4 linked regions of the Homo sapiens genome follow. The protein of the gene in region 3 interacts with the protein of the main gene of each other region in a biochemical or structural test. Each region holds a gene or a part of one and is shown on either strand. Other genes may lie near its edges.

Region 1 (7,036 bases), on a different chromosome or scaffold from region 3:
AGAGTCTCGCTCTGTTGCCCAGGCTGGAATGCAGTGGCACCATTTCAGTTCACTGCAACCTCCAGCTCCTGGGTTCAACCAATTCTTGTGCCTCAGCCTCCCAAGTAGCGAGGATTACACACACATGCCACAACGCTTGGCTAATTTTTTTGTGTTTTTAGTAGATACAGGGTTTTGCCATGTTGGCCAGGCTGGTCTCGAACTCCTGACCTCAGGTGTTCCGCCTGCCTCGGCCTCCTAAAGTATTGGGATTCAGGTATGAGCCACTGTGCCCAGCCTCAGAGCTTCTTATCTGCAGGCCCAGTACACCTCAAACTCTGGTCCTAGACCAAGGCAGGCAAACTAAGACATGCAGCTCACATCTGCCCTGTTACCTATTTTTATGGGCTGCAAGCTAATAATGGCTAAATAATTGGAGAAAAAAAATCAAAAGAAAAATATTTCATGACACATAAAAATTACATGAAATTCAAATTTCACTGTCCATAAAGTTTTATTAAAGCATAGCCATGCCCATTCATTTATATATTGTCTATGAGTGATTTAGACTATGATAGCACAGCTGAGTTGCTGCAACAGAGACTCTAAGGCCCACAAAGCCTAAAATATTTACGTCTGACTCTTTACAGAAGAAGTTTGCAGAGCTCTGTCCTTGACTATGAATATTCTCGAGCGCCTGTCAGAACTAAACAAAAATCCTCTCTGAAGGAAAACACCATCATCCTAGAACTGAAATGAAAATAAAGAGGCAAATTAGAAGCCTAGATGTCATAACCCAGAACCAACTGAAATAAAAGACACTAGGGATTCCAGAGGTGATTGAAATTATTAGGCCTTAGTCCATTTGGGCTGCTATTTAATATAATAATATACCATAGATAATATATCTACTTTTATTCTAGGTATTACAATATTAACTTAGGTTCCCTAATACTTGATATACTATATTATCATAGTAACAGCTGCCATTTATTGAGATCTTACTGCAAAACACACACTGTTTTGAGATAGGGTGTCGCTCTGTCACCCAGGCTGGAGTACAGTGGCACAATCACAGCTCACTGCAGCCTCGCCTTCCTGGGCTCAACTGATTCTCCCACCTCAGCCTCCTGAGTAGCTGGGACTATAGACACGTGCCACCAGACCCGCCAATTTTTCTATTTTTTGTAGAGATGGGGTTTCACCATGTTGCCCAGACTGGTCTTGAACTCCTGAGCTCAAGTGATCCATCTCAGCCTCCCAAAGTGCTGGGACTACAGGCATGAGCCACTACACCCAGCCTACATACATAATTTTATTTCCTACTTCACAACTAGTATTACCCTAGTTTAACAAAGTGACTGAAACAAGGCTAAGTAAGACTAAATTACTTTTCCAAGCTGGCAAATGATGGTGCTGGGATTTTGAACCCAGATCTGTGTTTTGCCAAAGCCTGAGCTCATTACCACCAGTGAGTGGGTAATCACATTGACATTTATCAGCAACACCTCAGAACAAATCACATTATAGGCTGAAGTATCAATAGGAGAGTACTGAACAAATGCTTTTTGCCTTCTACTACTCTCACACTCCTTGTTTGTACAGCTGTGGTTCTCACTTGGTCACACCTAATGCTGCTTCATAACCTCCAGGAGGCTTTTCCTAAGTCAGTCCACAAAGTAAGTCATCATCATTATTGTATGGGTTTAAAACAAGTTCCCATTTCCTCACTCCTGGCAATGAAATATTAAATGGTCTCTACAAAGTTTTTCAATCAGAAGAGAGGAGGGAGGAGAACACTAATCTATGAAGTAGTATAAGGGACTAAAATAACCTTGCTCTCCCATTAGACTGTAAAGGAGGAATTTTTGTCTGCTCTGCTGTATCCAAGGCTCCTAGCATTAGTGCCTGGCATAGAGCAAGAGCTCAAGAAATATCTGTTGAATGAATGAATGAGTTTTTTCCTGGAAGCACAGAAAAATAGTTAAAGCTTGGACTGTAATAATAGCAGAAACTGAAGATAACAATCATTAAGTTCCTGCTATGAACTTTTATCTTCATGAGACTCTAAAAATTTCTGCAGAGAAAAGGGGCCCAGACACAACACTATCTTCTTAACATTTCTGCCTAAGCACCAACATATGATATCAGGTTTCCTTGTTTTGAGATGGAGTCTCACTCTGAAGCCCAGGTTGGAGCACTGTGGCGTGATCTTGGCTCACTGCAACTCTGCCTCCTGGGTTCAAGCAATTCTCCTGCCTCAGCCTCCCCAGTCTCCAGCTCCTAACCTCAGGTGATCTGCCTGCCTCGGCCTCCCAAAGTGCTGGGATTACAGGTGTGAACCACTGTGCCCGGATGACATAGGGTTTCCAATAGCTACTTTTAATATAAATATTTCAGGTTACGCTGAAATAAATTCATTCTATATAATAGTCTGTGATATTTAGAGACATTCAACCTAAACCAAATTTGCTTTATTTTATTTTACTTATTGTTTTTCTGAAACAGAGCCTTTCTCTGTTGCCCAGGCTAGAGTGCAGTGGCGTGATCTCGGATCACTGCAACCTCTACCTCCTGGGTTCAAGTGATTCTCCTGCCTCAACCTCCCAAGTAGCTGGGATTACAGACACACGCCACCAGGCCTGGCTAATTTTTACATTTTTAGTAGAGGTGCGGTCTCACTATGTTGGCCAAGCTGGTCTCGAACTCCTGACCTCAAGTAATCTGCCCTCCTTGGCCTCGCAAAGTGCTGGGATTACAGGCGTGAGCCATTGAGCCCAGCCCAGATTTGCTTCCTTTCAGTCATACTATAAGATTTCAAAATGCAGCTAACTTCACAATATAAGACCTACCAATTCCATCTTCCTAGCGTTATTTACCATGAATCTCTCTCTTTTTTTTTTTTTTTTTTTTTTTTTTTTTGAGACGGAGTCTCGCTCTGTCGCCCAGGCTGGAGTGCAGTAGTGTGATCTCAGCTCACTGCAACCTCTGCCTCCCGGGTTCAAGCAATTCTCCTGCCTCAGCCTCCCGAGTAGCTGGGACTACAGGCATGCTCCACCATGCCTGGCTAAATTTTGTATTTTTAGTAGAGATGGGGTTTCACCATGTTGACCAGGCTGGTGTTGAACTCCTGACTTCATGATCCACCCACTTTGGCCTCCCAAAGTGCTGGGATTACAGGCGTGAGCCACTGCACCTGGCCGAATCTCTTCTTTTTTTTTTTTTTTGAGACAGAGTCTCACTCTGTCACCCAGGCTGGAGTGCAGTGGCGCGATCTTGGCCCACTGCAACCTCCACCTCCCGGGTTCAAGCAATTCTCCTCCCTCAGCCTCCTGAGTAGCTGGTATTACAGGTGTGCGCCACCACACCCAGCTAATTTTTTTTTTTTAATAGACAAGGGGTTTCACCATGTTGGTCAGGCTAGTCTCGAGCTCCTGACCTCGTGATCTGCCTGCCTCGGCCTCTCAAAGTGCTGGGATTACAGGCGTGAGCCACTGCGCCTGGCCCCAATCTCTTCTCAAGCAGGGCTTACACACACAGGACTTAATACTAATATAGAGCTTTAGAATTTATTGAGAGCTTCCCATAAATTATTTCACATCAAAACTCTGCTTTGAGGTAGATATTTCTGTTTACCCAATTTATTGATAAAACTGAGACTCAAATTAAGTAACTTCCTAAAGTCATTTCAGGTTCATACTCAGGGCAGACAGGGCATAAACCTACTTTGTCTAACCAGAAGTTCTTTTTGCTCATATATTTGTTCATCTATAAACTTGTGAGCTACAAGCTAGCAGGTTCTGTCTAAATCATGTAATACATTACCAAGGCCCGAAACACATTTTAATGTTTCTTGATAGTGATAATGATAACAACAAGGCCGTCTGCCGTTGCCACCAACTACACTTTTAAAAATAAATTTTTCCACTAATGCCGTCTTTTATTTTCTACTGATAAGTCAACAAGCAAAACCCCCTCACATTAGGTTCTGAGGAATGCCACAACAGAAAACAAGGACGATAAAAATAGTTGCAAAAAATAACCCGTTACTAGAAAGTTCTAATGCTCAGACTGTCCAAGACAATCAATGACTCATGAAAGAAAAAAGTAAGATTTACCTTTAACTTAAGAGATTCTCCAAGTAAGGTTCCCTTATAATCTGTTGTATAGGTCCAATCATATGGTTTAATAACCTCTTTGGAGTGTTCACCCTCCGTCCTCAAATACCAAAATGAGAAGGATCAGATTCAGTGATGCAGAATAGAGATTATCTGTATTTATATATCACATCAAATTATATTCTATAATAACATATCCTATTAAATATATACACTTGTTATAATTCACCAGTACAAGGTTTTTCTTACAGTTTTTCTGCATTTATTATTTAACTTGTCATGTACTGATGTAGTCTTTTCAATTAGTCTGTATACAGCCTGAGGACATGGTTTAAAGGTTTATACTTATTTGTATCATCTAAGGTACTTAGTACATATTAGGCACAAAGTAAATAATTGCTGATTTGACTATCAAAGAAAAACATGTTGTCTTAATTTCAATGCTTCTCAAATAGGGTATTTATTAAGCATATCATAAGTAAACATTTTTTCTTAAAAACAGGAACATTAAGTATAGCCTACTGCCTCTTCAGTAAGGAACACTGAAAAATCGAAAACGTACATAGCTCAGCTCAGTTGTAATTCACTTTAACAAGTATTCAAGCAGTGGGGTAATTAACTTCCATTTTTATGTCTGAGAAAAACGAATTCTAGAATGATACAACTCTCAAGTTTAATAATACCAGCCCTTCATTCTAACAACACACACGTATCATTACTGAATATTTTTTCAAGTCTTTTCTCTTTTGTTTAACCTAATTACCTTTTTTGTTTAACCTAATTGACCGGATTCTCACCTGCTTTCTTGCCACTCTTCAGCACAGGCCACTTTAAGCATTCCTTGGTAGTTGTTTACACATCTTAACGCATCTGTAGCATTGAACTCAATTCCAAAGCCAGACCCATGCTGGATTCTTAAAACGTTGTCTCCAAACATCATTTCAGGGAGAGATGGCATATGTAATTCATCGGCTAATCTATACGTAACCAAAAGTCGGGTGAGATAATTTTATATCGCTGTTGGCATTTTTGTTTCTTTTCCATCCCAACAGAATTCTTCCTACTTGCTGAATGAGTTACACAGCACATGATTTAATCAATATGATATATTTGCAAGGTCTATAAAATGCTTTCATCATCCATTCTTTCATCATCATATGGCACTGTACTAAGTAGTGGGCTAAATAAGATAAATATACAAATACGTAATATAATAGCTTATTATACTACTATAATATATAGCACACAGATATTACTATAATATATATCATGAGGGTATGAAGAAAAGATAGCAAAGCAATTAAAGATACTGTCTCTTGTAGGAAAATAATTTTTCCATTAAAATTCTCAATTGTTAAAAGTTTCAAAACGTGGTGATGAAAAAAGCAAAAGCACCTGACACTGATGAGGGAACTCAGCACTTGCCTACACAGACTTTCAGAAGGATTGTGTCAATTTACATTTCACCCTGGGGCAACAATCAAGCAAAAAAAAAAAAAAATCACAGGAATTTAACATAATTTACACACTTATGACCCAAAGTATCAGTTTTAGAATACCTGTACTAAAGAATAATTCCAAGTACAGAAAAATATTATACACATTAATACTTATAATGGCTTTACTTATAATCATGAAAAAGAAATACTCTGAATGTTTCATTATAAAGCAACAAATGATTATGCAAACCAAAGTATATCCATATGATGAAATATTATGGAACCATTACAAATGTTTAAAGAGAGACTATAATAATATGAAAAAATGCTTATGATAAAATAGTAAGAAAAAAACTGGACACACATTGTATATTTATTACATCTAAACGTGTATTTCTGTGTGCACATATCAGTGATCTAACTTTGAGGTGCAGGTCTTCAGGACTGCACAATGTTAACAATGGTCTTCAGGACTAACAATGTTAACTTTCATCATAATTTTAAGTAAAATTTATTCTTTGTTATTAGGAGATAGAAAATATTAAATACTTAAAAGATTAGATACAATAAACTGTAATTGGAATATATATTCCATAAGATTCCATAAAATAAGTTTTAACTTGAATAATGCATACCAAATGTGAAATAATATGTGAGTCTGTGGATTCTAACCAATATATCTGGAAAAATGTGGCAGTCCTATAAAATATTCCACTCATATATGTAAAAGAATCACTGTTACTAATTTACAGTCCTTCAGTGTTCTAAATATAGAGTTTCTTAAACATAGGCCAAAATGCCCTCTTTTTTTTTTGAGACGGAGTCTCGCTCTGTTGCCCAGGTTGGAGTGCAATGGCACGATCTTGGCTCACTGCAACTTCCGCCTCCCAGATTCAAGCAATCCTCCTGTTTCAGCCTTCCTAGGAGCTGGGATTACAGGCACGTGCCACCATGCCCGGCTAATTTTTGTATTTTTAGTAGAAACAGGGTTTCACCATGTTGGCCAGGCTGGTCTCGAACTCCTGACCTCAGGTGATCCACCTGCCTCGGTCTCCCAAAATGCTGGGATTACAGGCGTGAGTCACCGCGCCCGGCCTGAAAATGCCCTATTTCTAACATCATCAAGCTTCCCACTTAAAAACAGGTATAACTAGTTACAAGGAGAGAAGACAGGAAGCTCCTGTGGTTTTAAGGTGCCTTAAATATTCATTAGAAGAGCTTCTTTAATCCAATATTTTACCCAACCAATTTATTTAGCACCTTAGTGGTTTTTACAATCTATGATAATGCATCACAGAAAAATTTGGGATTGGTGAGGGTAAGTCTTCCTTTTGTCATATAAAAAAAGGCATTTTTTTTTTTTTGGCGGAGGGTGGGGGACGGAGTCTTACTCTGTCATCCAGGCTGGAGCACAGTGGCACGATCTCAGCGTACTGCAACCTCTACCTCCCAAGTTCAAGTGATTCTCGTGCCTCAGCCTTCAGAGTAGCTGGGATTACA
Region 2 (7,036 bases), on a different chromosome or scaffold from region 3:
CTTTAGTCTGGGCAACACGGCGAAACCCCGTCTCTACAAGAAATAAAAAAAATATAGCCCGGTGCGGTGGCATGTGCCTGTAATCCCAGCTACTCAGGTGGCTGAGGCAGGAGAATCCCTTGAGCCAGGAGGTAGAGGTTGCAGTGAGCCAAGATCGCGCCACTGCACTCCATCCTGGGGGACAGAGCAAGATGCTGTTTCACGCTATTTCATTAAAAAAAAAAAAGTTAGCTTTAATTATTAGATGATTTGTTACCTATCAGAAAAATACATAGATGCCTTTAGACACAATTTTACATTCTTACATTCTTATGTGTGCCTTCTTTTTTTTTTTCAAGATGGAGTCTCACTCTGTCGCCCAGGCTGGAGTGCAGTGGCGCAATCTGGGCTCACTGCAACTTCCGCCATCTGGGTTCAAGTGATTCTCCTGCCTCAGCCTCCTGAGTAGCTGGGACTACAGGCACGCAACCACGCCTGGCTACTTTTTTGTATTTTTAGTATAGACAGGGTTTCACCATATTGGCCAGGCCGGTCTCGATCTCCTCAGGTGATCCACCCGCCTCAGCCTCCCAAAGTGCTGGGATTACAGGCGTGAGCCACCGCACCCAGCTTTCCGCCCCGCCCCCCCGCCGAGATAGAGTCTTGCTCTGTTACCCAGGCTGGAGTGCAGTGGCGTGATCTCAGCTCACTGCAACCTCCACCTCCTGGGTTCAAGCGATTCTCCTGGCTCACTCAGCCTCCTGAGTAGCTGGGACTACAGGCGCATACCACCACACCCTGCTAATTTTGTATTATTGGTAGAGATGGGGTTTCACTATGTTGGCCAGGCTGATCTCGAACTCCTGATCTCAGGTGACCCGTCTGCCTCAGCCTTTCAAAGTGCTGGGGTTACAGGCATGAGCCACTGTGCCTGGCCTATAAGGCCATGTACATTCTTATTTCAGGGAGTTTCACAAAATTCCTGAAGCTCTACCCTAGACTCCACATTAGGAAACAAACAAACAAACAAAAAGCCTTTATACATGCTGTTAACTATGAGCTATTAAACCATATTTCTAGCAGGGGAAGCTACCTCAGCCCTAGATTTGAGACTTGGTTCTGCCACATACCTGTTATATGAACTTAGACAAGCAACTTAACCCATGTGAGTCTTAGCTTCCTGTACTGTAAAATTGGGATTAGACTTGTTATGAAGGTTAAATGCACTGATGCATGTAAGCCTGGGCACAGTGCCTGGCACATAGTAAGAACTCAGAAAATCCTGGCTATTGATGATGAATGGCATCTAGGCTTTAAAACAGTAGGGGTGGGGTGATGATTGCTTCATCTGGGTAACTACATTCCACCCAGGCCCTGAGGTCAAACTACAGTCCAAGGTCCCAAAGGGCTGGGGAGCAGAGGGTAGAAATAGAGGCTTGAGCAGGGGTGGAGTAAACTTGGCTGCTTCTGCTGACCAGCCCATGCAGGCTCTGGAGGTCCTCCTGCTGCTACGGATTGTCTCTGAGAGACTGAAGGACCACTCGAAGGCAGCTGGCTCCTCCTGCCACATCACCCAGCTCCTCCTGACCCTCGGCTGTCCCAGCTATGCCCAGGTGAGTGCCCAACCAGCCTAGTCTGGGGACTGCAGGGGGCCCGTAGCTTTAGAGGCCCACCTCTGAGAAGACAGGATATCAAAGGGGCAGCTTCTCGGCCTTTTACCACCACAACTGGCTGGAGAATTGTGGAGTGTGGAGCAGTTGGAGGCAGCTGTAAGAAGGGGAGTCATCTTTGTCCTTCCTGCAAAACCAGTTGTTCATTAAGTTTACAGACTGCTGCAGGAACCTACCGCCAGTCTTGTATTTCCTAACTGGTTCTGTTGCCCTAGTTGATGCTTCATTGCTCATGTAAAGCTATCACAGTGTCTCCTGGTTGGTCTCCTTGCCTCCAGTTTCTCCCTTTTCTACTTCGTCTTCTTAACGACCACTGGTAGGCACAGGTGTGATGTAATCTCTTTCCTGCTTAACCCTGTTCCCTTTTGCCCCAATAATACTTGCCAGCGCTTACGGCTGCAGTGTTTACCCCTGGATAACTTTGCCACAAAATATCTCACTCTTACTATTTTTGCATCACTCTAGTATATTGACTTTGGAAACAGAAGACATCATTCTGTTTATAGCATTCTGTTTTTAGTGGTGTCATTTCCATTTCCATTTCCATTTCCACTTCCACGTCACCCTCCCGAGTAACTGGGACTACAGGTACATGCCACCACACCTGGCTAATTTTTAAATGTTTTGTAGAGACAGAGTCTCACTATGTTGCCCAGGCTGGTCTTGAACTCCTGGGCTCAAGTGATCTCCCACCTCAGCCTCCCAAAGTACTGATAATACAGGCATGAGCCACCGTGCCCAGCTACTGCTTACTCTGTATATAGCTTTAATCTAAAAGTGGTTAACCAGGCTGAGCGCAGTGGCTCACACGTGTAATCCCAGCATTTTGGGAGGCTGAGGTGGGCAGATCACCTGAGGTCAGGAGTTGGAGACCAGCCTGACCAACATGGAGAAACCCCGTCTCTACTAAAAATACAAAATTAGCCAGGTATGGTGGCGCATGCCCGTAATCCCAGCTACCTGGGAGGCTGAGACAGGAGAGCACTTGATCCCGGGAGGCGGAGGTTGCGGTGAGCTGAGATCACACCATTGCACTCCAGCCTGGGCAACAAGAGCGAAACTCCGTCCTAAAAAAAAAAAAGTGGTTAACCAAGTGTTAAATGGACATTTTAGAGAGTGAATCAATAACTCCTATGCAGATTATAATATCTGAAATAATGTAATATTTATTGGACATGTTGAACATTTTGCTTGTAAATACTTTACTCCACTTTTTTTTTTTTTTTTTTTTTGAGACGGAGTCTCACTCTGTTGCCCAGGCTGGAGTGCAGTGGCGCGATCTCCATTCACTGCAACCTCTGCCTCTCGGGTTCAAGTGATTCTCATGCCTCAGCCTCCCGAGTAGCTGGGATTACAGGCGCGTGCCACCACACCTGGCTAATTTTTGTATTTTTAGTAGAGATGGGGGTGTCACCATGTTGGCCAGGCTGGTCTTGAACTCCTGACCTCAGGTGATCCGCCCACCTTGGCCTCCCAAAGTGCTGGGATTACAGGTGTGAGCCACATGGCCACCCTTATTTACTCCAGTTTTGTTTGAAGAGCCTGGCTGCCTTTCCTCATGTGCCCTCTGATTGCTTCCTTAGTTACACCTGGAAGAGGCAGCATCGAGCCTGAAGCATCTCGATCAGACTACTGACACATACCTGCTCCTTTCCCTGACCTGTGATCTGCTTCGAAGTCAACTCTACTGGACTCACCAGAAGGTATTTCTCACTTTCTTAAACTCCGAAGGCCCTGGGTATTAGAAAGAATTTAGGATTTTCTTGATATTTGCCTGGCTTTTGAGATTTCCCTGGAGCTAGGCAGTATGTTCCTGACCCTGAGAGGCAGGCATATTTCCTAGCCTTGCCCTCGCCAGCGATTTGCTCACCAGTCCTCCTCTGGTAGAGATACAGTCCTTTTCCTTCTTCAGGGGCAAGGGGGAAAGTCTGTCCTGTGACGAAAAGCTGGGACAATGGTGATCCTGGGAAGGCATGGGAGCTCTGGACTAGAAATCCAGGGGATGGCAAAGACTTGAGTTTTCTCCCAAACTAGTTGTGTGACTTGGGCACGTCTTCTACCTTCTCATGCTCTAGTTTCTTCTCTACGTTTTTATCATTCCTAAATTGGCGGACAAGTCACTGGTGAGGGCAAAGCTAGGAACTGTTACTGCTTCTCAGGGTCAGGAACATTCTGCCTAGGTCCAGGGAGATCTCGAAAGCCAGGCAAATATTCAGAAAATTCTAAAATCTTTCTAATACCCAGGGCCTTCAGGGATGGGGCCACGTAATCTCCAGGGCCTCTCAAGCTCTGGAGTGCCTGACTGCCTTACTGCCTCCTCTGGCTCCTTCTCTCCTTCAGGTGACCAAGGGTGTCTCTCTGCTGCTGTCTGTGCTTCGGGATCCTGCCCTCCAGAAGTCCTCCAAGGCTTGGTACTTGCTGCGTGTCCAGGTCCTGCAGCTGGTGGCAGCTTACCTTAGCCTCCCGTCAAACAACCTCTCACACTCCCTGTGGGAGCAGCTCTGTGCCCAAGGTGAAAGAATAGGGTGGATGGCCCCCCTTGGATGACATGTATGGTCTGTCTGCTGTCAGCTCTTCTCAAACCTCATCCCCTCTGCTGGCTAACTATGTGGCCCAGCCTACCTAGAACCTGCACAGAGTAGGCCTGGGATAGCAGATGGGTTTCAGTTTGCCTGCTGACTCTAAACAATTGGTGACTGCCTGGAATACTAGGCTGAAAGGATTTTTTTTTCTTTTCTTTTTTTTCTAAGACGGAGTTTCGCTGTTGTCACCCAGGCTGGAGTGCAATGGTGCAATCTCAGCTCACTGCAACCTCTGCCTCCTGGGTTCAAACGATTCTCCTGCCTCAACCTCCTGAGTAGCTGGGATTACTGGCATGCGCCACTACGCCCGACTAATTTTTGTATTATTAGTAGAGGTGGGGTTTCACCATGTTGGCCAGGCTGGTCTCAAACTCCTGACCTCGGGTGATCCGTCTGCCTCAGCCTCCCAAAATGCTGGGATTACAGGCTTGGGCCACTGCGCCCAGCCAGCTGAAAGGATTCTGAGACCCCAGGGGATCTCAGAGGGAAGGAGTTATGAGATTGATTAGCTCTGCCTGCCTTAATGCAGAAGGAAGCATGGGAAGCAGGCTTTGCTGCCTTAGTAGCTAAAAGTGGTGAAGTTCTGGCTGCATCTTCTCCCTTTTTCACCCCACCCACCACAGGCTGGCAGACACCTGAGATAGCTCTCATAGACTCCCATAAGCTCCTCCGAAGCATCATCCTCCTGCTGATGGGCAGTGACATTCTCTCAACTCAGAAAGCAGCTGTGGAGACATCGTTTTTGGACTATGGTGAGTCTGGGGAGGACAGCAGGGCCCTCTTGGAATGGACAGGCTATGTGAGAGGGCTGCGGTTTTTTCTCCAGAGGATCCACACTGTGGCTGAGTGATGGTGGTCTTGTCTCTTTTGCTACAGGTGAAAATCTGGTACAAAAATGGCAGGTTCTTTCAGAGGTGCTGAGCTGCTCAGAGAAGCTGGTCTGCCACCTGGGCCGCCTGGGTAGTGTGAGTGAAGCCAAGGCCTTTTGCTTGGAGGCCCTAAAACTTACAACAAAGCTGCAGATACCACGCCAGTAAGTACAGGGCCAGAGGATATGGCAATGATGGCACCAAAGTGCCATGCACCCTTGAACATGGATTCCAAACTGTTCCACAGATTACATGCTATGTTTAGATACATTCGTGGAAAAAGGCATTCCACAGCTAAATAAGTGGGAAATGCTGAGTTAATCAAGGTTAGATGTTTTTATTTCCTGTAGGACTCTCGTGTCCTTCAGTATGCGGATGTGCCTTGCAAATCTCCAAAAGGGAGATCTAGTGTACAGTGTTTCCCTAAGAATGTTTTCCCACAGGATTCTTTTATTGAGGAATGCAGTTTGGGAAATCCTGTCCCAAGGCACAAGGAGAGTTGGGATTAGAGAGAAGTGTAGAGGGTTTTCCCCAGGGAGCCTTTAAGTCAGCTTAAGGGAGTGAATGCCTTTTGGAGGCAGGGAAGGACTCAGGTAGCTTGGCCTGGGAAAGAGGCAAAGAGAAAGACTCTCCAGGAAAACAAAGGATTCCTCTGATTGGTTCTCCTCTCCTCTCTCAACAAGGTGTGCCCTGTTCCTGGTGCTGAAGGGCGAGCTGGAGCTGGCCCGCAATGACATTGATCTCTGTCAGTCGGACCTGCAGCAGGTTCTGTTCTTGCTTGAGTCTTGCACAGGTGAGCAGCCATGTCCCCATGACCATAGGCGGTGCTGAAATGACACACACTACAGCACATCTTTCTATGTAAAGGTTTCGTTGCCTTTTTTTATTTTTGAGACAGAGTCTCACTTTATTACCCAGGCTGGAGTGCAGTGGCGTGATCTTGGCTCACTGCAACCCCTGCCTCCTGCCTCCTAGGTTCAGGTGATTCTCCTGCTTCAGCCTCCCAAGTAGCTGGGACTACAGGCATGCGCCACCACACCCGGATAATTTTTTTTATTTGTAGTAGAGATGAGGTTTCACTATGTTGGCCAGGCTGGTCTCGAACTCCTGACCTCAGGTGATCCACCCGCCTCGGCCTCCTAAAGTGCTGGGATTACAGGCATGAGCCACCGCTCCCGGCCTTTGTTCCCTTTTTAATCAGATACTGACTTCTGGTCCCAGGGCAACATTCCCTTGACTTTAGTCCAACCATTGGTCTCCCTCTTTCAGAGAGCCTGTCCCAGACTTACCCTAGTTCTAGTTTTCAGTGCTTCCTAATACATTTTGGCTATTTAAATTTGATTTAGATAATATTTAGGGCCGGGCTCGGTGGCTCATGCCTGTAATCCTAGCACTTTGGGAGGCTGAGGCAGGCGGATCATGGGGTCAGGAGTTCAAGACCAGCCTGGCCAACAAAGTGAAACCCCATCTCTACTAATAATACAAAAATTAGCCAGGCATGGTGGCGGGCACCTGTAATCCCAGCTACTCAGAAGGCTGAGGCAGGAGAATAGCTTGAACCTGGGAGGCGGAGGTTGCAGTGAGGAAGATTGCACCATTGCACTCCAGCCCGGGTGACAGTGCGAGACTCTGACTCAAAAAAAAAAAAAAAAAGAAGAAAGAAAGAAAGAAAGATAATATTTAGAATTCAGTCCTCAGTCACACTAGCCACACTTCATGTGCTCAATAGCCACATGGCTAGTGGCTACCGTATTGAGTAGCACAAACATATCCTCAGGAGGGCTGAAGCTAATAATAAAACATTGCATTGATGGCACATTTTGTCTCCCCAATCACATATACTTCTAGTACTTCATTTGCCCCACACTAGACCTCATAAAGCTGAGTGGGAGCATAGATTATTTTCATTTGTTAAATGAGAAAGTTGAGAAGTCTA
Region 3 (3,739 bases):
TACAGGCATGAGCCACCATGCCCAGCCTATTTTTTATTTTTTAGAGATGACATCTTGCTATGTTGCCCAGGCTGCCCTCAAGCTCTTGGGTTCAAGCCATCCTCCACCTCAGCCTCCTGAGTAGCTGGGACTATAGCCATGTCCCATTGCCCTGCTTTGAAAGATTTTATGTCGTTTCAAGATAGCAGGCCAGGTGTGATGGCACACATCTATAATCTCAAGAATTTGGCAGGGCCACTTGAGGCCAGGAGTTCAAGACCAGCCTGGGCAACATAACAAGATCCCGTCTCTACAAAATATTTTACAAATTAGCTGGGTGTGGTGGTATGTTGAGTGTAGTCCCAGCTACTCAGGAGGCTGAGGGAGGAGAATGGCTTGGGCTCAGGAGTTCAAGGTTGAAGTGAGCTATGACTGTGCCACTGCACTCCAGCCCAGATGACAGAGCAAGACCTGGTCTAGAAAAAATAAAGTTTTCATTTAATGCACAACACAATAAATGAATGTTTTTGTTTAAAATGAAAAGTTTATTTGCTGAGTACACCAAATAGGATGCAAGCACTGTCATGACAAATATACAGAAATATGCAGATCAACATAAAACAGTAATTTAGTTTAAATGAAGGGAAATCTCTTTAAATGTTATGACAACATACTCCCAAGAAGAACCTTTTCTTCAGTTAAGTTAATTATACATTTCAATAAAATAAAGGATAATGGATTAGTGGAAGTTAGCTTGTGAATTTTTCTTAAAAATAAAACTCCAACTCTATTAATCCATGCCAGTTAAACACTATAACTAAAATTTCCAAATAAGCGCAAAAGGAGATGAAGCAGTTAGTTACCTTTTTTGCTTGAACAGTCCAAAGGAAAATGGTTACTATAAATACAGCAGGCAAACTGTTAGACTGACCTAGAACATAGTGTACTAAATTTCAGTCTCAAATTGTGCTAAATGCTCATCATTAGTATGGCACATTTGGTCCATGATGTGGTTTAATGCCAAGACAGATCCCAATTTGTTACAGAAACACATAGATTACTGTTGCTTTTTGTTTTTAAATACATATATTTTAAAAAGCCAGGTATACTTCCACATACAAAGGCAGGTTTCCCAGGAGAAATTTATAGGAAGTAGTCTGGGGTGCGCCGTGTAACATGAGGCTCACCACGACGAGGCGCTGGGTCAAATTGAAGGCTGTAAATGGCAAAAAAGGAAGCAAATAAAGGATCTGACTTTGCAAAGAAAACAAATGAATAAAGAACAAGACACTGTAGTAGAAACAGCAGTCCTGCTTTCCCACCATGACTACATCACTTACGGCTGGAATGGCCATGGGCAAATCACTGCAGATGCTCCCATTCCAACTAACTGCTTCATAGGGCTATGGTGAAAATTTAAGAAGACAGAATGTCTGGTTTGGTGCCTGGCATAACAATTTCTAAATGTTATTATTATTTAAAAGCTTAAATAATTAAAGATTAAATAATATCAAGTTTAAATAATTAAACAATAATTGTTTAATATTATTTAATAATAATAATAATATCACTTTTTTTTTTTTTTTTTTTGAGGCAGAGTCTTGCTCTGTCGCCCAGGCTGGAGTGCACTGGCACGATCTCGGCTTATTGCAAGCTCCGCCTCCTGGGTTCATACCATTCTCCTGCCTCAGCCTCCTGAGTAGCTGGGACTACAGGAACCCATTACCATGCCCGGCTAATTTTCTTATTTTTTTTTAGTAGAGACGGGGTTTCACCGTGTTAGCCAGGATGGTCTCATCTCCTGACCTCATGATCCACCCGCTTCGGCCTCCCAAAGTGCTGGGATTACAGGCGTGAGCCACCGCGCCAGGCCTAATATCACTATTTTCTTGAGTGTTTCTGGCTAGTGGATTTTTCCAATTATTTTTGTGCCTCTATTGAGATGATCATGTGTTTTTTAATCCCTTAATATTAATATGGTTTATTATATTGATTTTCATGTTTTGAACCAACCTAGCATTCCTGGGATAAATCCCACTTGCTCATGGTGTATAATCTTTTTACATATTGCTAGATCCAGGTTGCTGGTACGTATGTTGGAAAATTTTATATCTGTATTCGTAACAAATGCTGGTCTGTTTTTGCCTTTGTCTACTTTTGGTATCAAGGATAATAGTGCAGGTGTGACAGAATGAATGCAGTAGTCCTCCTCTTCTGTTTTTTGGAAGTGTTTGTGAAGGATTGGCATTAACTCGTTTTTATTTTTGAGACAGGGTCTCACTCTGTTGCCCAAGCTGGAGTGCAGTGGTGTGATCATGGCTCACTGTAGCCTCAACCTCCCTGGGCTCAGGTGATCCTCCCACTTCAGCTTCCTGAGTAGCTGAGACTATAGGCTGAGCCACCACACCAGGTTAATTTTTGTATTCTTTGTAGATACAGGGTTTTACCATGTTACCCAGGCTGATCTTGAATCCTGGGCTCAATCTGCCTGCCTTGGCTTCCCAAAGTGCTAGGATTACTGGTTAGAGCCACCGCACCTGGCCAATTCCTTTCTTTAAACATTTGGTGGACTTCATCAATGAAGCCAATTGGGCTTGGCCTTTTATTTGTGGGGAGTTTTAACTTTTTCACTCATTTATTTATATTCTTTTAAATTAAATAGGGACAAGGTCCTGCTATGTTGTCCAGGCTGGTCTCAAACTCCTAGTCTCAAGCAATCCTCTCAGCTTGGCCTCCCAAAGCTGGGATTTATAGGTGTGAGCCACCATGCTGGCTCAATATTTTCACATTTGAAAGGTCATTCAGATTTCATATTTCTTGAGTCAGTTTCAGTAGTTTCTTTTTAGGAATTAGTACGTTTTATCAAAGTTACTGAATTTGCTGGCATATAGTTATTTATTGTATTCCCTTATAATCCTTTTTATTTCAGTAAGGTCTCTAGTGATTTGGTAATGTGAGTCTTTACTCCTTTTTTTCTTGGCCAGTCTAGTTAAGGCTTTTCAAAGCATCAACTTTGGGTTTTGTTGATTTTTCTGTAATGATTTTCTACTGTTTGTTTATTTCTACTCTAAACCTCGTTTCATAAGCTTACATCAGGTTTAGTTTACTCTGCTTTTTCTAGGTCCTCAAGTATAAAGATAGGTTACTGATTTCAAATCTTCTTGTTTTTTTTTTTGTTTTTTTCTTTCTGAGACAGGGTCTTTGCTCTGTTGCCTAGGCTGTAGTGTAGTGCTGTGATCATAGCTCATTGCAGCCTTGATCAACTGGGCTCAAGTGATCCTCCATCTCAGCCTCCCATACAGCTGAGACTACAGGTGCTTGGCACCATACCTGGCTAATTTTTAAATTTTTTTGTAGAGACGGGGTCTCCCTATGTTGCCCAGGCTGGCCTCAAGTGATCCTCCTACTTTGGCTTCCCAAAGTGTTGGGATTACTTGTGTGAGCCACAGCATCCAGCCATGTTAATGATTTCTAATTTCATTTCCTTGTGTTTGGAGAATATCCTTTTAAGAATCTAATCTTCTTAAATTGCCTGAGGCATGTTTTACAGTCTAGCATATGACTATGTTTCATGTTTACTTGAGAGGAAAGTATTCTGCTGTTGTTGGGTGTTGTTTTACAGACATGAGGTATACAGTCAGTTTACAGTGTTGCTCAAGTCTTCTCCTGCCTTCATCTCCTGCCTAGTTGTTCTATCCAAGAGAAACAGTTTCTGTTGCTTAGTTTTTTCCTGTGTAGAGGTCACACTTCCTTGTTCTTT
Region 4 (7,036 bases), on a different chromosome or scaffold from region 3:
AGTCCAAAGGCCTCTCGGCCTTCCCATCCTCCAGGTCCCAAGTGCAACACTCCTGGATGGCCCTGGCACAGCCACACAGGAGGCAAGCCAGCCCAGCGCAGCTTCCCAGGGCCGAACAGACGGCACTGGCCCCATGATGCCCTCCCCTCTTCTCCCCATTTCCAGGCCTCTTCTCCCATCCCATCCCTCCAGGGTCAAACACCAAAGGCCCTTCTATTATGCCCGTTGATTAAAGGCTCCTTTCATCCCTCCCCAGCGTTCTTTCTTCTGAGGCTGTTTAATTGTACAGATGCAAATGCCTGGCCTCTCAGGAGTGCCACATTCGGAAACAACTGCTGTCCTCTTGGGCCAGGCCCACCCCTAAACCCCTTCCGAGGAAATTAAGCAAGGGCCTCTTCCTTCCCTGTCCCCAGCCAAGGGAGACCCCTCAGAGGGATTAAACTTGCCCCTGCAAGCTGTCATTTCCAGCCCATAAAGGCCACTCACAGAGGGAAGGTCACAGTCCCCTGGGGGGATGGGAGAACCTTTCAAGCATTTAATTGTGTCTCAGGGTTATGGTTGGGCTTTGTCTTTTCCCTTTAAAAAAAAAAAAATTAACTCCCCTTGGTTAGAGCTCAATTTTTTCCCTCTTTAATAAAGGCAAGCCAAATACTTTCGTAGGAGATAAGGCTAAATACAGTGAACAGCTGGGTTTAGTCAAGGTTCTTTGTTTTTAGCATTCCTGACCCAGCTAATGCAGTGGGGTGAACAACGGCATGGCTCTGACTAGGCAGCACTGAAGACACGTCATGTCAAGGGGTCAAAATTCTCGGGGGAGCGTGAGAGGAGACAGTGAGAAAATGGGGAGGGGCTCTGTGCACAGGAGACTCAGGACAGTGGGGGGAAAAGTCACTTCTCCACATAAGAGGCTCAAATCCCAACGCCACCCTCCGTCAGACCCCTTTGGCCCCAGCTCCGACCCCTCCAGGGTTTACCAAGTTGGGCTTTCACAGCATGTCTGAGCAAACACGCAGCGACCTTTTACATAATTGCAACCTCCTCCAGAGAGGAGAGAGGCCACATTCTCTCAGCCCCACCCCCAGGACTTCAAACACACTGCACTGCCCTCATTTTCTCCAAGAAACAGGCTTTTCCACTGCAACATGCTTCATGTGGCAAACTTTGCTTTCTTCTGACATCTGGCACCAACAGCGTCTGGCGCGTCTGAAGGGACTGTTTGCTTTTTGAACCCCTGCCATGTTGAGATTACTCAACGCATCCCAGGTCCCCCCCACCTCCCACCCCTGCTCCACGGCCCCAACCTCACTGGGTCTTTTTTATTTTTTTGAAGGGGGGATGTATTTGTACAAATTGAGATGTTGAAGCACCAGCCCTGCTGGGAGGGTGAGGCGTGACACCCTGTGTCCCTGTCCTACCCCAGGAGGACACTGAGTCTAGCTCAGGCCCTGCAGAGATAAGGCAGCTGGGAGGGCCTTCCCACAGCCTGATCCACTCAGGAAAGAACTGGAGAGGATCGGAGAGTTGACCATTTGTGCAAGTCTTTGTGCATTAAAGGGGAGGCCAGGGCTTCAAAGCCAGGCTTATTAACTGTGCCTCAGGGAGAAAAAAAAAAAATCAGAGCCAGATGTGGCCACAGCAGCTGAAGGAGGCACTTTCCCCACAAGCCTATGCCAGCGCCACATGGCTCTTCTCCAAGGTCACCTGCAGTTCCACTCGAAGTCCAGCCGAGACAAAGCCAAGATCAAAATGAATCCCCAGAGGGACACACTTGTGTCATTAGTTTCACCTTGTGTCTTTTCAAGATAAAAGCAGCAGCAGCAGCAGCCAGGCCTGTTCCCCCACCCCTTTGATACCTTTTCACAATTGTCTCTGCCCAGGTATAAAAGGGACTATCCAGACCCAGCAACACGCCCTGCTGGCCAGTTACCTCCAGGGGCTCAGTCCAACCTCCATCCCCTCCCCACTCCAAAGAGAATCACTTTGAGCCCCCGCCCAAACTAACTCCCAGATGAAGGTGGCTGGTAAAACTATACAAGGCCTGCTCTAGAGGGGAGGGTGTCTCAGAGCCCTGCAGGTGGACTCATCCCCGTCCAGGAGCCCATGCCCACCTGGCAGGTTACCAAGTGCTATTCAGAGTTTTCCACTCACACCCCTGGCCCTGGTGGCGGCAACGGGTTCACACCTGGGAATAGACTGTGGTCCTGGCACAGGGACAACAGCACACAGCTGAGGAGTTGGAACTCTGTCTTGGGTGTAGACCCCAGAGTGAGCACCTCCTTAAACTAGGGTGCCCCTGTCTCACCCTTGTCCCAGCCTGGAGCCCTAAACCTGGGAAACCTGGGACAGAACTGGAGCAGAATCCACACATTCTCTTGGGCTGCAGGCCATGGAGAGGGGCAAGGGAGGACTCCAGATGAACTGAGGCAGAGTCATCACCTGCTCCTTACGAGGGAAATGATCAAGAGAAGGAATGGCCTAGGGCTGGCCCTCATCCTCCTCAGCTCTTGAACCCTCTCAAGGGCCCTAAAAAGTCAGCATGGACCTTCTCAAGGGCACCTCCGTCCACTCTGCAGACAAGGTAAGGAGACCAGGAAGTTCCCTTCCTGAAGCCCCTGCAGGGGAGAAGGCAGCGGGGCCCAGGCCTGGACAGGAGGAGTAGACTGCCCTATTCACCCTGTGCCCACCCGCAGGTCCAGCCCCTTCTTTGTTATGGACAAAGGCGCATCTCTGCTTCTAATGGCCCATAAAATCCAGGGAGGCTGTTCAGGTGGAAAGGCAGGGTAAGAAAAACACGGGGGACTTTTCCTAGGCATGGTTCCTGACTATTTGGAGCCTTCAATGTGGGGGTCTCTCCTAAACTCAAGCCAGTAGGGCGGCGCTTCCAGACCCTCCCTCCTAATCAGTGTGCCTGTCCCTCTTTTTGCTCCCTGCTCCCCACTCGCCCACAAGCCCCTCAATTGCAGGTAAAGCCTCTGCAGTGTGGCCTGAGCCCCACTCTCCTGTCGGTGCAAGCAGCTGCTCCTTTTCTCTCCTCAGTCTGGTTCACCTGGTGGAAAGAGCCTGGCCAGGTCCCCCAGAGAACCCTCCACGCAGCCTCCCTCTTGCGGCTGCTGCTTCGTTATTGCTGCTAGCGGTGAGGGGAGAGAAGAAATGAGAAGGGAGCCTCCCCCAGCGCCTGCTGAGCCCCCTCCCACCCTGCCCCACCTAGGTCTGCTCAGCCAGGGGAGCTGCTCCAGGCTCTGGCTCTTGGTTCTGAGCAAACAAACTGAGAGCAGAAAAAAGCCACAGGACTCTTACCTATAATTTCCCTTTTTGCTGAGCTGCTCTTTAAAGTGGCCCAGGGTCAAGCTCTGAGCCTTCAGCATCCTCCGGTATGGAATTTCTTCCCCACAGAAAAAGTAAGTGACAACCAACTCACTGGCCTGGAGCGCGTGGACACCTGCCAGTTTCTTTGGCTCTTTGTGACTGAAAATAAGATGGAATGGAACAAGTTTAGCATTTTAAAGCAGACACACATCTAAAGCAAACACACACGTGCGCACATGTGCATAAGTGACAGGGTATCCAAACACTAGGGCTGCAATTGTAAACCCAAAGTGGGGGCTGGGGCAGAGCCCCACATCCCAGAGTCAGGCAGCTCTGGGGGACACACAGTCCAACCCCACATGTGCTGCATGCAGCATGCAGAAAAGGATGATTTCCTTTTGGTTGTACAAATTGGTATCATTTCCCCCACCGCCACCAAATGAAAGTATACGGCGGCCTCTTTCAGGCTGGCATAAATGGGGTGCTTCCTCAAGAAGATGAGAGAAGAGAAATTATCACAGAGATGCCGGGTCTCACCTGGATTGGAGAGTGCTAAAGAGACAAACCCAGAGCAGGACACCTTTGGGATGGCATGATCTCAGAATGCCTAAAGCCCACCCCTTATTCCAGCAGAATGAGAACAACTAATGGGGGTTATCACACAGTCATGTCCATTTCCCCATTTCTTCTGAGATTTTGTAGAATGGCTTGAAAAAAAGGCTGCTAGGCCGGGCGTGGTGGCTCACGCCTGTAATCCCAGCACTTTGGGAGGCCGAGGTGGGCGGATCACTTGAGGTCAGGAGTTTGAGACCAGCTTGGCCAACATGGCGAAACCCTGTCTCTACTAACAATACAAAAAAGGAGCTGGGTGTGGTGGTGGGCGCCTGCAATCCCAGCTACTCGGGAGGCTGAGGCAGGAGAACTGCCTGAACCCAGGAGGCGGAGGCTGCAGTGGGCCAAGATTAAGCCACTGCACTCCAGCCTGGGCAACAGGGCGAGACTCTGTCTCAAAAAGAAAAAAAAAAGTGGCTGGCCCAGACCCAGAGAGCTGGTACACTTAGGGTCAACCAATTGAAACAATGAAAGGGTCCAGGGCAGTGGCCTATTGAGGACTTCAAACATTGCTCATTGCTCAGGATGAAGACACTAAGAAAGAAAACTTGATACAGACCATTTTAGATCTCTTTAGCAGATTTCTTTTTAATTGCACCATCCAGTAATTAAACGAGCAGGCTCCTCAACCTACTTTGAAAGAGACTAAATTTACAAAAAGAATCACTGCCCAATTTGGGGGAAGATATTCTGTCTTCTCCAAACAAAAACACAAGGATGGTCCCCTCCACCTCTGCCACAGTGGAGAATGATCTTTCTGCTCAGGGGTGACAAATGTTTCCAGTACTACTAAATTGCAAGTTGAATGGGGGCAACTTTTCCAGCTGAATTTGAGGTCCCTTCTACACTTCTGCTAATGGCTTCATGTCCCAGCTTTTGATTTGTGTATGACCAGAAAAACTTTTGCTATGATGCATTTGTCGGCAGGACATGGATGGCAACATCTACGTTTACTGTTCCTCATCACTAGCGCTAAAATCAAAGTGATTTTAAAAACCAAAAAAAGTTTCATGAAAATGAAACTCCAGATAGCGAATATTCTGAAACATAAAGCACTCGGCAGATCTCAGTAATGTCAGGTAAAGACACTCACTCTTCTGGAGCCAGGCTTGGATTGGAGAAGGGTGTGGCTCCCGTCTGAACAGTGGCCGAATGATTCCTGTCCCTCTGCTGACTGGCCACACAGCACCTGAGGACACAGCCAGGGCGAGGGATTTAGAGGTACACTGTTGTCCCCAGAGCAATTGAAAAGCAGACAGAAAATTACTATTTGGCCTCCTGAAGAGACACGAACCCGACTTCCATCCTTACGGAGACCCAACCAAGACCCTGGGTTAACAGTGGCTGAAGAGGCCAGGAAGACGTCTTGGAACAGCCATTCTAAGCCCCCCTGGGAGCCCAGGATGGGACATTCTCAGCCCCAGCAAAGGGCTGAGGACTCTTGATCCTCCATCTCACAGCTTCTTATATACTCAACTAACCAGCCTTAAACAATCAAGACATTTGTAAGGAATGGGATTTGTAAGCAATTGCTGAAATTCATTCTCCCAATTCTAGGCATGACTTGCCTCACAGATCCTGGCTTAACTCTAGTAGAATGAACATAACTGAAGGGAACAATTTCTAGAAGCTGGAAAGCAGCAGCTTACTCATCCATAAGTAATTCTTCTTCTCATGGGAGGGTTTGAGACCCAGGCAGAAAGAGAGGCCCTCCCCATTAGCCACAGACCAGGTCTCCACCCAAACCCAATCCCTGCCTCAACCTAGGACCCTTCACTTCCACTCACCGCTGCTTTGGGGGCTTCGACACCTCAGCTAGCCTGCGACAGGCCTCCTCCAGCTGAGCCAGCGTGTTGGGTGGGGTCAGGGGAGGCATCGCAGGGTCCTGGGTGAACAGGTGGGCACGGGGGGTGGTGCGGGGGTGCCCGCTGTTGCCCCCCCACAGATGGTGCCGGCTGGCTCGTTCGCCTGGAGACGAGCGGGCAGACTCCAAGGGGTAGGCCTTTTTTGTGCTTTGGGCACTAAACAAGGAATGAGCAGAGAGAAAACAGAAGGAAAGAAACTGGGTTAGAAGAACTGGAAAATGTGACTTCAATAGAAACTTGTCTATTCTGCTCAGAGAGAGAGTTAAAAAAAAAACTACCATAACATGAACAGGGGTCAGTGCCAAAACATGACATTTTTGTGGTCTGCTCAGTCCAACGTTTAATATTAAGATGGCAGGAGCAAATAGTCACATTTGTATTCCGCGGACTGCAAAAACAGCCATTCCCACAATACCTCCGTACTGAGTGCCCATGACCCTCGCGGCCGCGGCGGCGGCAAGCGGTGTTTACCTATGGGGCTTGGGCTTGCTCTGCCGCTCACTCTCCAGCATCCACTGCCAGACATCCTGCGACCTGTCTCCTTCCTCCCGGGGAAGCTGCAGGGCCCCAGCTCCGCCGGGGGCCCCTCCTTCCCTGGCGGGCAGGGCCAGGCCCGGCTCCGTGCCTTTCCCATTGCGTTTGGGCAAGGTACTGCCTCTGCTGCCGCTGTGGGGAACCAAGAACCACACCCAACCCAGAGACCCGGTTAAATCTCCGGGACTCCTAGAATCAGACAATTCAGCAAGTCGGGGGGCTGGTGACACGAAAGACCCATGCACCTGCTCCCCGCACCCTCACCCGGCCGTGCACTCTGCCGCCCTCTTAGAAACTAAATGCCTGTAATGCGGCTCCCACCTCACACCTGCCCATGGACCTGGCTGGGAGACAAGCCCCACACGGGACACTGCGGTCCGCCCGGCACTTACCCAAACTGCTCGCTGGGCATGGTTTCCGGAGCCTTGGAGTGGCTTTTGCATTTCGAGTAGCAGTAATACTCGCTGCCCCCAGGGCAGAAGCAGTGCACCCGCTGCGTGGCCTCCGCCTCGATCTCCTCCTTGGTCTTGGGGACGGCATGGTGGTGGATGTAGTGGTGGTGGACATGCTTCGTCGTCTGCTTGGTCACAAAGCCTTTGCCCCCGAGGAGGGGGCAGGCGCCCGGCGAGGCGGCCGCGGGAGGCAGCTTGCCACCGGGCGGGAGCAGGGAGTGGTACTGCGAATGGTGGTGGTGGTGGTGGTCCGGGGAGCGGGAGCGG

What was found.
Region 1: the proteins of PPP2CB (region 3) and TIPRL form a complex in vitro, tested with the Homo sapiens proteins (one study listed by BioGRID).
Region 2: the proteins of PPP2CB (region 3) and ESPL1 form a complex in vitro, tested with the Homo sapiens proteins (one study listed by BioGRID).
Region 4: the proteins of PPP2CB (region 3) and AXIN2 form a complex in vitro, tested with the Homo sapiens proteins (one study listed by IntAct).

Annotation. Positions count from the first base shown.
Region 1 is NC_000001.11:168,181,940-168,188,975, reverse strand, and holds part of TIPRL (TIP41-like protein), read right to left. Parts: intron 5,075-7,036; coding exon 4,895-5,074; intron 4,198-4,894; coding exon 4,098-4,197; intron 1-4,097. UniProt on the Homo sapiens protein: May be a allosteric regulator of serine/threonine-protein phosphatase 2A (PP2A). Isoform 1 inhibits catalytic activity of the PP2A(D) core complex in vitro. The PP2A(C):TIPRL complex does not show phosphatase activity.
Region 2 is NC_000012.12:53,278,275-53,285,310, forward strand, and holds part of ESPL1 (separin), read left to right. Parts: intron 1-1,457; coding exon 1,458-1,592; intron 1,593-3,232; coding exon 3,233-3,352; intron 3,353-3,989; coding exon 3,990-4,161; intron 4,162-4,854; coding exon 4,855-4,983; intron 4,984-5,107; coding exon 5,108-5,264; intron 5,265-5,783; coding exon 5,784-5,893; intron 5,894-7,036. UniProt on the Homo sapiens protein: Caspase-like protease, which plays a central role in the chromosome segregation by cleaving the SCC1/RAD21 subunit of the cohesin complex at the onset of anaphase. During most of the cell cycle, it is inactivated by different mechanisms.
Region 3 is NC_000008.11:30,785,113-30,788,851, forward strand, and holds the end of PPP2CB (serine/threonine-protein phosphatase 2A catalytic subunit beta isoform), read right to left. Parts: intron 1,196-3,739; coding exon 1,123-1,195; 3' UTR 504-1,122; downstream 1-503.
Region 4 is NC_000017.11:65,530,615-65,537,650, forward strand, and holds part of AXIN2 (axin-2), read right to left. Parts: coding exon 6,710-7,036; intron 6,450-6,709; coding exon 6,255-6,449; intron 5,940-6,254; coding exon 5,706-5,939; intron 5,108-5,705; coding exon 5,012-5,107; intron 3,466-5,011; coding exon 3,298-3,465; intron 1-3,297. UniProt on the Homo sapiens protein: Inhibitor of the Wnt signaling pathway. Down-regulates beta-catenin. Probably facilitate the phosphorylation of beta-catenin and APC by GSK3B.